Linked DNA regions of Homo sapiens: all the other regions are linked to region 1. The links come from fine-mapping of genetic effects on gene expression. A gene starts in region 1. Each other region holds a variant in brackets. All regions are shown on one strand. Distances are between the middles of the regions. Region 1 holds the start of DMTN (dematin actin binding protein). Region 2 overlaps DMTN (dematin actin binding protein). Region 3 overlaps SLC39A14 (solute carrier family 39 member 14).

Evidence for each region. PIP is the estimated chance that this variant, and not a neighbour inherited with it, causes the effect.
Region 2: its variant is fine-mapped to the expression of DMTN in nasal epithelium (TOPMed, PIP 0.95).
Region 3: its variant is fine-mapped to the expression of DMTN in prostate (GTEx, PIP 0.97).

The regions. Positions count from the first base shown.
Region 1 is chr8:22,055,561-22,058,233 of GRCh38, reverse strand. It overlaps DMTN (dematin actin binding protein), which reads right to left and starts at 1,420. Exons shown (of 16, transcript NM_001387751.1): 1 at 1,098-1,420. RefSeq lists an enhancer at 1-302.
Region 2 is chr8:22,078,599-22,081,271 of GRCh38, reverse strand. DMTN (dematin actin binding protein) reads right to left here. Exons shown (of 16, transcript NM_001387751.1): 11 at 1,028-1,092; 12 at 812-860; 13 at 647-654; 14 at 402-467; 15 at 79-159. Among named protein-coding and RNA genes, the nearest start is that of FHIP2B, 9.2 kb to the left of the region's middle. The variant A/G (reference allele first, on the strand shown) is at 1,116.
Region 3 is chr8:22,417,645-22,420,317 of GRCh38, reverse strand. It overlaps SLC39A14 (solute carrier family 39 member 14), which reads right to left. Exons shown (of 9, transcript NM_001128431.4): 8 at 2,483-2,667; 9 at 1-766. The coding sequence ends at 620. Among named protein-coding and RNA genes, the nearest start is that of PPP3CC, 22 kb to the left of the region's middle. The variant T/C (reference allele first, on the strand shown) is at 1,436.

The DNA.
Region 1 (2,673 bases):
ACCACAGAGAGGCCGGCAGCACGGACACAAGATGGACAGGTGGGCACAGGCAGAAGCGCCCGCGCTGAAACCGTTGCAGGACGCATGCACGCGGGGAGACTCCGAAGCCCTGTGTGCCAGCTCATGCCCCCACTCTCCCATCGAGGCCCCCTCACTGTGACACATGGTGCTGCCAACACCCGCTCACACCCACCCACCGGTCCTCTCCCTGGCATCCATCCCAGAGTAGTGCACGTGTACAGCAACATACACAGAGCCCTCCACTTACCCAGCTCTGGAGGCCTTCCCTGGGCTCCCCATTCCCACAGCCCAACTGCCTTCCTTGTCTTGGACCTGTCCCTGCTCCCCTGACTCTCACAACCAGGCAACTGGTCCCTGGAAGGGACACACTGGGTGTGTCTGCCCAAGAAAGGGGGCTGGACCTGCTAGGCCCTGAGGGACAGAGCTAGGGAGGGGGAGCCCCAGAACCCTGTGGGGGCTGCATGTCTGCTCAGCCCTGGCCCCTTCAAGCACCCCAGCGGCGGGCACAGGGGGAGTACTGGGCTTGGGCTTGCAGCTGCGCCCTGCCACAGCCTCACTCTTCACTCAGCCCCACCCCAGCCTGGCCAGCCACTGGCTGGGGGCAGGCTCTCCTCCCACTCCCCCTAAAAAGCAGGCTCCAAACAAACAGCCTCAGGCCCCTAAATGTACTGCTCCAACCCCCAGAGCATGTGGAGTGGTTTTGGGGAGGCCAGCGGGCCAGTATTCAGCAGAGAGGGAATGCTCCCCTGCCCACCCCGTGCCCCCACAGTCCATCCCTTCCATTGCTGGCCTGCTCAGCTAGGTAGGCCAGGCAGAGATGCTGGCAAAGAGGGGATTGGGCTGGGAGCAGTTCTCATCCTTGGGATGAGAACACCCCAGGCCCTCTTCCCCAGATCAGAAGGTTCCATTAGATCAGGCCCAGCTGGTCCCAGGGGCCGGCCCATCCTCCCACTGAACAGGGCCCACAGTGGGCTCCCCCCAGATACCCTGCTGCCACCCAAAGCCTGGCTCGCCAGCAAGCGCTGTGGCCCAGAGTGCCCACAGAGGGGAGGAGAGGCGGAGACCCTGCCACCTACCTCTTCCCAGACAGTGTGGCCCAGACGCTCTGAGGCCACAGAGGCCCGAGAGGCGTAGGCCAGATCCACGGGCTGTCACTTCCCCCAGGAGCCTAGGTAATAGGTGTCTCTTCCAGGAACCCCGCGGCGCTTCCCCGGAGCACAAATAACAGGAAAAATGCCGGCTTAGGGTGGGTGGGCGGGGTGGGAGCTGGCGAAGGAGGGGAGCTGGTCTCGGCTGAGCGGTCTGATCTCCCCTCTGGGCCCCCACCCTCCTTGCCCCCACCCTGCTTCTCTGCAACGCACGGCCGCCTGGATCCCCCGGTGCTGGGGAGTCCTCGTCTGGGGGCGGGAGGGCGGGCGGGCTGCTGGCTCCCCCACGCCCTCCCCGCGCCCTCCCCACTTCCAGCTGATAGCGTGTGGCTGGCAAGGGTGTGTGTGTGGATGTGCGCGCTCTTCCACCAGCGCTGCAGCTCAATCCATTTCAAACAAGAGGAGCATTAACCCAGCGTCATGACAAAGCAGAATCAGCCAGCACTGTCCTCTCCCTTTCCCACACCGCAGTCTGCAGCACTCACACGCACACACACACCCACACGCACCCAGAGCCCCTCAGCCTCCTCCTAAACAGCCAGAGTTCAAGTTGCTGTGGGCGGTGGGTCGAGGGAGGGGGCTACTGATGACCCAGGCGGACAATGCCTGCTTTCTCCAGGCACCTGCACCTCCTACCCTATTCATGACCACCCCACCATCTGACAGCAGCAACTGAGGCCTCTGGGGCCCAGCCTCTTGAGGTGGGGGTGCAGGCACAGGCCAGAATTGGTTACCCAAGGATGAGCTCTCTCCTGGGAGGGTAGAATGGAGGGATGCAACCAGGTCCTCAGTACTGAGACTTGAGCTGGCCCCTCAGTAACCTGAATCCCCTGGGAACTCCAATGGGATGCAGCAGAGAGAGAGAAGGACCCCATCTCTCCCTAGGGTGGCTTCATGAAAAAGGAGCTTCCTGCCTGGTAACCCCTGGGTCCCAGCACAGAATTTACAGGCATGTGCCTTCCCTGTCTCTAGCAAAGCCTCAACCACCCCAGGAGCCTCTCATTGGCCTTTCGGGCCCCCTGGGCAGGATGGGGAAGGACAACAAGCCTTGCCCTCGACCCTCGCCCTGGCCCCAATGTCCTCTCCACCTCCACACCGCAGACTTGCCTACCTAGGCAGCCCTCACCGTTGCCCTGGCAACCCTGCCCCCAGCCGGTCAGCTGATGGTATCAGCTGTTGTTGGGGAAATCTAGAATCTGGGGAGGGGGCTCTGGGGTGTCTGAATGGAGAAGCACAGGGGGAGGGGCTTGAGGGAAGAGGCCAGGAGGGGACAGAAAGTATCTGGCTGGTGGGGACAGAGAGGACAGTAACCTGAGGGATGGGCTCCAGAGAGAAGGGAGGAAGGAAGGAGGCAGGTGGCTGAGAAGGGAGACAGAACACAGGCTGAGCTGCTGCAGCCAGGCGGGGGTGGCTGTGAAGGTAGAGAAAACCTGGGGGTGGGGGATGAAGCATCAGATCCATGGAACTGCAGAGAAAAAGGCCAGGAGAGTGATGTGGGAGGGGG
Region 2 (2,673 bases), 23 kb before region 1:
GAGGCCCCAGATCTTCCCCCAGGCAGGAGAGTGCCCGTGGACAGCCCCGCACCCATCCAGGGCATCTTCCTTGCCTACCTCAAGCCGCATCCGATCCACCCCCGGTGGCAGCTTGGTTCGCCCCTTGTTGGTCACCACTAGCATTTCATAGGGATAGATCTGGGGGTGGGGGGAGGGGCAATCTTAGGCTCACAGAATATCCTGTCCTTCGACTCCCTAGGCCTCCCACATCAACCTGCAGAGGCCACTGGGGTTCATGCCATCTTGCCCTCTGTCTCCCCCAACTTCCCTGCCATCCCTCCCATCTTCAACACCAGGAAGACCCCGCAGCACATTCCACTTGCCTGGCATCTCCCCAGCCTCCCGCCCCGCTACAGGCGCTTGTGTCCCCTGCCCCTCACCTTCTGCTCCAGCACACAGGGCAGGGAGTTCCCCCGGTCCATCCTCCCCCTCTGGCCCTCTCCGTTCTGGGGAGACCAAAGCCGCAGTGAGCCAGAGCGGGGCAGGGAGACCTTCCCAGCCTTACCCCGGCTTCTTCTTCTTCACCAGGCAACTCTGTGGCCCCACACCCCCCTTCCCCTGACACTTTCGGGTGCCAGGACCCAGCTTCTGCTGCTCTGCCTGTTCCCCTCCAGGAGGCACTCACCTGCAGGCCTGCGGGAGAGAAGGGGCATGGGTCAGATGCAGCTCTGAGGTCAGCAGGCCAACACGCCTGACCTCACCAGACCCCTGCCCACAGCCCAGACCCCGGCTGCCCAGGGACCTGTGTAAGCCCCTTCTCCAGACCCCGGCACCAGGCCCCACTTCTCACCTGGGCTTCCAGTCTCACTCCCTGATGGGCTGAACTCTGTGGACTGTAGCTAGAAAGGACACAAAGGAATCAGAGGCAGTCGGGGATATTCACCTTTGGTCCCCTTCACTTTGGGGGTCTCCCCGCTCCCTGAGGGTGCCCAAGTGGCTCAGTCCCTCAGCACCCCACATGCACGTTCCTCCCACGTAGTCTATATCTCTGGTCCTGAGACCTTACCCGGCTCAGGGTGGTCCTGCCATAGGCGGGGAGAGAGGAAGATTTAGACGTTCCCTGGTGCAAGGCTGGAAGACAGCAAAAGGTCCTG[A/G]GTTCAGTCCCTTTGGCCCTGACAGCCCTTCCTGAGACAGCAACCTCACTGGCCTTCCACAGCTGGGGCAGGGCAGGAAGGGATCACGCTGGGGGGAACCTGGTGGGCTTCTGCTAGCTCCCAGCTCCTACTGGTCACCTTCAGCAAGCAATACAGTGCTGGTGGTTCTCAGCTGTCTCTACCACCATCCCTCTTCTCTCCAGCTAGAAGTGGCCCAAATATACAACTGGGCCCAATGCCTGATGTGAAAATTGAGTCAGCCAGAGCCAAGGCTCACATCATAAAATGAACCTCTGGGATACACAAAGAAAACTAAAATCGAATCACAATAATTACATTATTATAATTTTATTAACAATGTTAGTAATCAAATCTAAAAAAAAAAAATTTTTTTTTTGGCCAGGAGTGGTGGCTCATGCCTGTAATCCCAGCACTTTGGGAGGCCAAGGTGGACAGATCACCTGAGGTTGGGAGTTCAAGACCAGCCTAACCAACATGGAGAAACCCTGTCTCTATTAAAAAATACACCGTGCCCGGCCAAAAATTTTTAATAGAGATAGGGTCTCACTATGTTGCCCAGGCTGAACCTGAACTCCTGGACTTAAGTGATCCTCCTGCCTTTGCCTCCCAAGTACTGGAGCTACAGGCATGGGCCACCTGCTCAGCTAGTATTCATATTTGTTTGTTTGTTTATTTATTTATTTTTGAGATGGGGTCTCCGTGTGTCATCCAGGCTGAAGTGCAGTGGTGTGATTATAGCTTTCTGTAGCCTCAACCTCCCAGGCTCAAGTGATTCTCCCCATCTCAGCCTCCTCAGTAGCTGGGACTAGGGGCATGCGCCATCAAACCCAGCTAATATATATATATATATATATATATTTATTTATTTATTTATTTATTTTTATTTTTTGTAGAAACCAGGCCTCACTATGGTACCCAGGCTGGTCTTGAACTCCTGGGCTCAAGCAATCCTCCCACCTTGGCTTCCCAAAGTGCTGAGATTATAGGTGTGAGCCACTATGCTTGGCCTAGTAATCAAATTTTAAAAGTCTGACATTAGGCTGGGCACAGTGGCTCACACCTGTGATCCCAGCATTCTGGGAGGCCGAGGTGGGTGGATCACGAGGTCAAGAAATCAAGACCATCCTGGCTAACATGGTGAAACCCCGTCTCGACTAAAAATACAAAACAAATTAGCCGGGCGTGGTAGCAGGCACCTGTAGTCCCAGCTACTTGGGAGGCTGAGGCAGGAGAATGGCGTGAACCTGGGAGGCGGACCTTGCAGTGAGCGGAGATCACGCCACTGCACTCCAGCCTGGGTGATAGAGCGAGACTCCATCTCAAAAAAAAAAAAAAAACAGTCTGACATTATACTACAGAAAGAGTCATGTTCTAAGCACTGTCACTGGGGATTGTACCAGCAGTCAACAACTTCACATCAGCATTACTGGACCTCAGTCTCAACTTGCACATTTAATAGGATCTCTAAATTCTGAAGTACTACAGATTATAATTCAGGAAAATTTGTTTCCAGTAATATGTTTTCCTGGAAATAACT
Region 3 (2,673 bases), 360 kb before region 1:
ACACAGCAGTGGTTCGACTTCCTCTCCCATTCAGGATGAACCTTGCCTCACCTCTCACCCTGCTCATGTGTTCTGACTTCAGGTTCTCTTTGAGAGAAGTAATAGGCAATTAAACAGACTTTGAAAAAATGGGAAGGCTTCCTGTCTCCTGTCTCTTCTATTGGCCAGCTGGAGGTCCAAGGTGCCCAGCTAGAGTCATGGGCCCCACACTATGGATTCAACTCTTGATATTTCTAGCCAAGTTATAACCATTGGCTCTATTTTTGCATTGTTGGGTAAAGGATTCAAAACCTTTCAGCACTGGTTCCAAGAGGAGGCCAAGGTAATCAGAGAAAAAAGTCAGGCTTGTCTTGTAAGCTGCATTCAGGTTCCAGAGTCACTGAGAGAAAAGGAGGTGAGGAGAGGGCAAGAGGCACTAGCTAGAGACTGGTTACCAGGGCAGCTTATTCCTAGGATACAGCATTTTACAAACGGCTGACATTTGAATGCAGGAATACAGTCTGTGTCAGTTTTTCATAGAACGGCCTCTTCCGTGGTGCATTGTGGATGGTAAGTCCTCGGGCTGGCGATCGGGCAGCCCAGGGCCCGACTTCCAGTCCCACAGGCTCTTGGCAGAGCCCTACCCAATCTGGATCTGTCCTGAATACATGGTGAGGACCACCATGATGGTGAATCCAGTCAGGAGGCCCAGGTTCTGGATGATAAATGGAATCAAGATGCTGCCCTTCCTTTCATCCTCTTGACAGACCTCATTCATCTCAGGGAACTGGGAAAGAAGCAAGAAACAACACAGCTGCAATTCCTTCTTCATCTTGTAAGTCCAGGGCAATTCAGTGATGGAGATATAGATCAGGTTGGTTGACAAAGAAAATTATCAGGGCCAGGTGCAGCGGCTCACTAGAGGTCAGGAGTTCGAGACCAGCCTGACCAACATGGTGAAACCCTGTCTCTACTAAAAACATAAAAATTAGCTGGGCGTGGTGGCGCAGGCCTGTAGTCCCAGCTACTTGGGAGGCTGAGGCAGGAGAATTGCTTGAACCCGGAAGGCAAGGCTGCAGTGAATGGAGATCACACCACTGCACTCCCGCCTGGGCAACAGAGCGAGACTCCATCTCCAAAACAAAACAAAACAAAAAAAGAAAATTAACAATAGCAGGTACCATGTCTTTACAACTGTCTAGGTAAAACAAAGTACTCAACGTGTATGTGGCTCTGGATGAGTTTAGAGGCTGGCTAAAAATAAATGTACTCTGATAAAAAATAAACTTTATATTATAGACTTTTTTTTTTCCTTTTTTCCACTCGCTCTTGCCCAGGCTCGAGTGCAGTGGTGCGAACATAGCTCACTGCAGCCTCAAACTCCTGGGCTCGAGCAATTGTCCCACTTCAGCCTCCTGAGTAGCTCCACAGGTGCCTGCCACCATGCCTGGCCTTA[T/C]TATGGACTTTAAACACTTTAAGAGGTCTTTTTGTTATCAAGATATTATTAACAAGCTAGATGCAGTGGCTCACACCTATAATCCCAGCACTTTGAGAGGCTGAGATGGGAGGATCCCTTGAGGCCACAAGTTCAAGACCAGCCTAGGCAGCATAGAGACCCCATTCTATAAAAATTCAAAAAATTAGCTGGGCATGGTGGCTGGAGCCTGTAGTCCTAGCTGCTTGGGAGACTGAGGGAGGAGGATCACTTAAGCTCCGGAGTTCAAGGTTGCAGTGACCTATGATCACACACTGCACTCCAGGCTAGGTGAGTGAGGTTCTGTCTAAAAAAAAAAAATTAAAGAAAAAGACACACCCAATGCATTGAGATAAAAAAAGAAACAAACCAAAGTATTGCTATTATTGTTTTAGGGGTAGTATGATGTATGATTATGCGTAATTTTCTTTCCTTTCTTCTGTCTCTTATCTATATACAGCCATTCCATAATAATTAATAAAGACCATAGATAAATTATAATCATTTTCTTTAATGACATATGCTAACAAAAACATAAACTTTTCCTCCTTTAAAATCTAATGCCCCCTTAAAAACCGCTGAATGGTAGGTACACCTTAAACAGACGAACTCTGTGGTATGTGAAAGAAAGCTAAGGAAGATGTTATTAAAAACAAACTACCAGCCATGTGCGGTGGTTCATGCCTGTAATCTCAGCACTTTGGGATGCCGAGGCGGGTGGATCACCTGAGGCCGGGAGTTCGAGACTAGCCTGGCCAATATGGGGAAACCCCATCTCTACTAAAAATACAAAAATTAGCCAGGCGTGGTGGCACACGTCTGTAATCCCAGCTACTCAGGAGGCTGAGGCAGGCGAATCACTTGAACCCGGGACGCGGAGGTTGCAGTGAGCTGAGATCATGCCACTGCACTCCAGCCTGGGAGACAGAGTGAGACTCCATCTCAAAAAAATAAAAATAAAAAAAAACTACCTACCTAACATCCATCCCCTTAGCCGCCCTCTCATCCAGTGAACTGTGGAACACTTACCATATCAGCCAGAGAAATATACAAGAACATTCCTCCAGCTAGCGCAAAAATCCAGTTGGCAGAGAAGTGGCTGCCGGCCAGGATGCCAAAGGCCAGACCCAGGTAGCAGCAGCAGGCAGAAAGGAAGTTGAAGAAGAGAGCTTGTTGGATGCTCATCCCAGCGTTGAGCAGGATGACAAAGTCTCCTACAG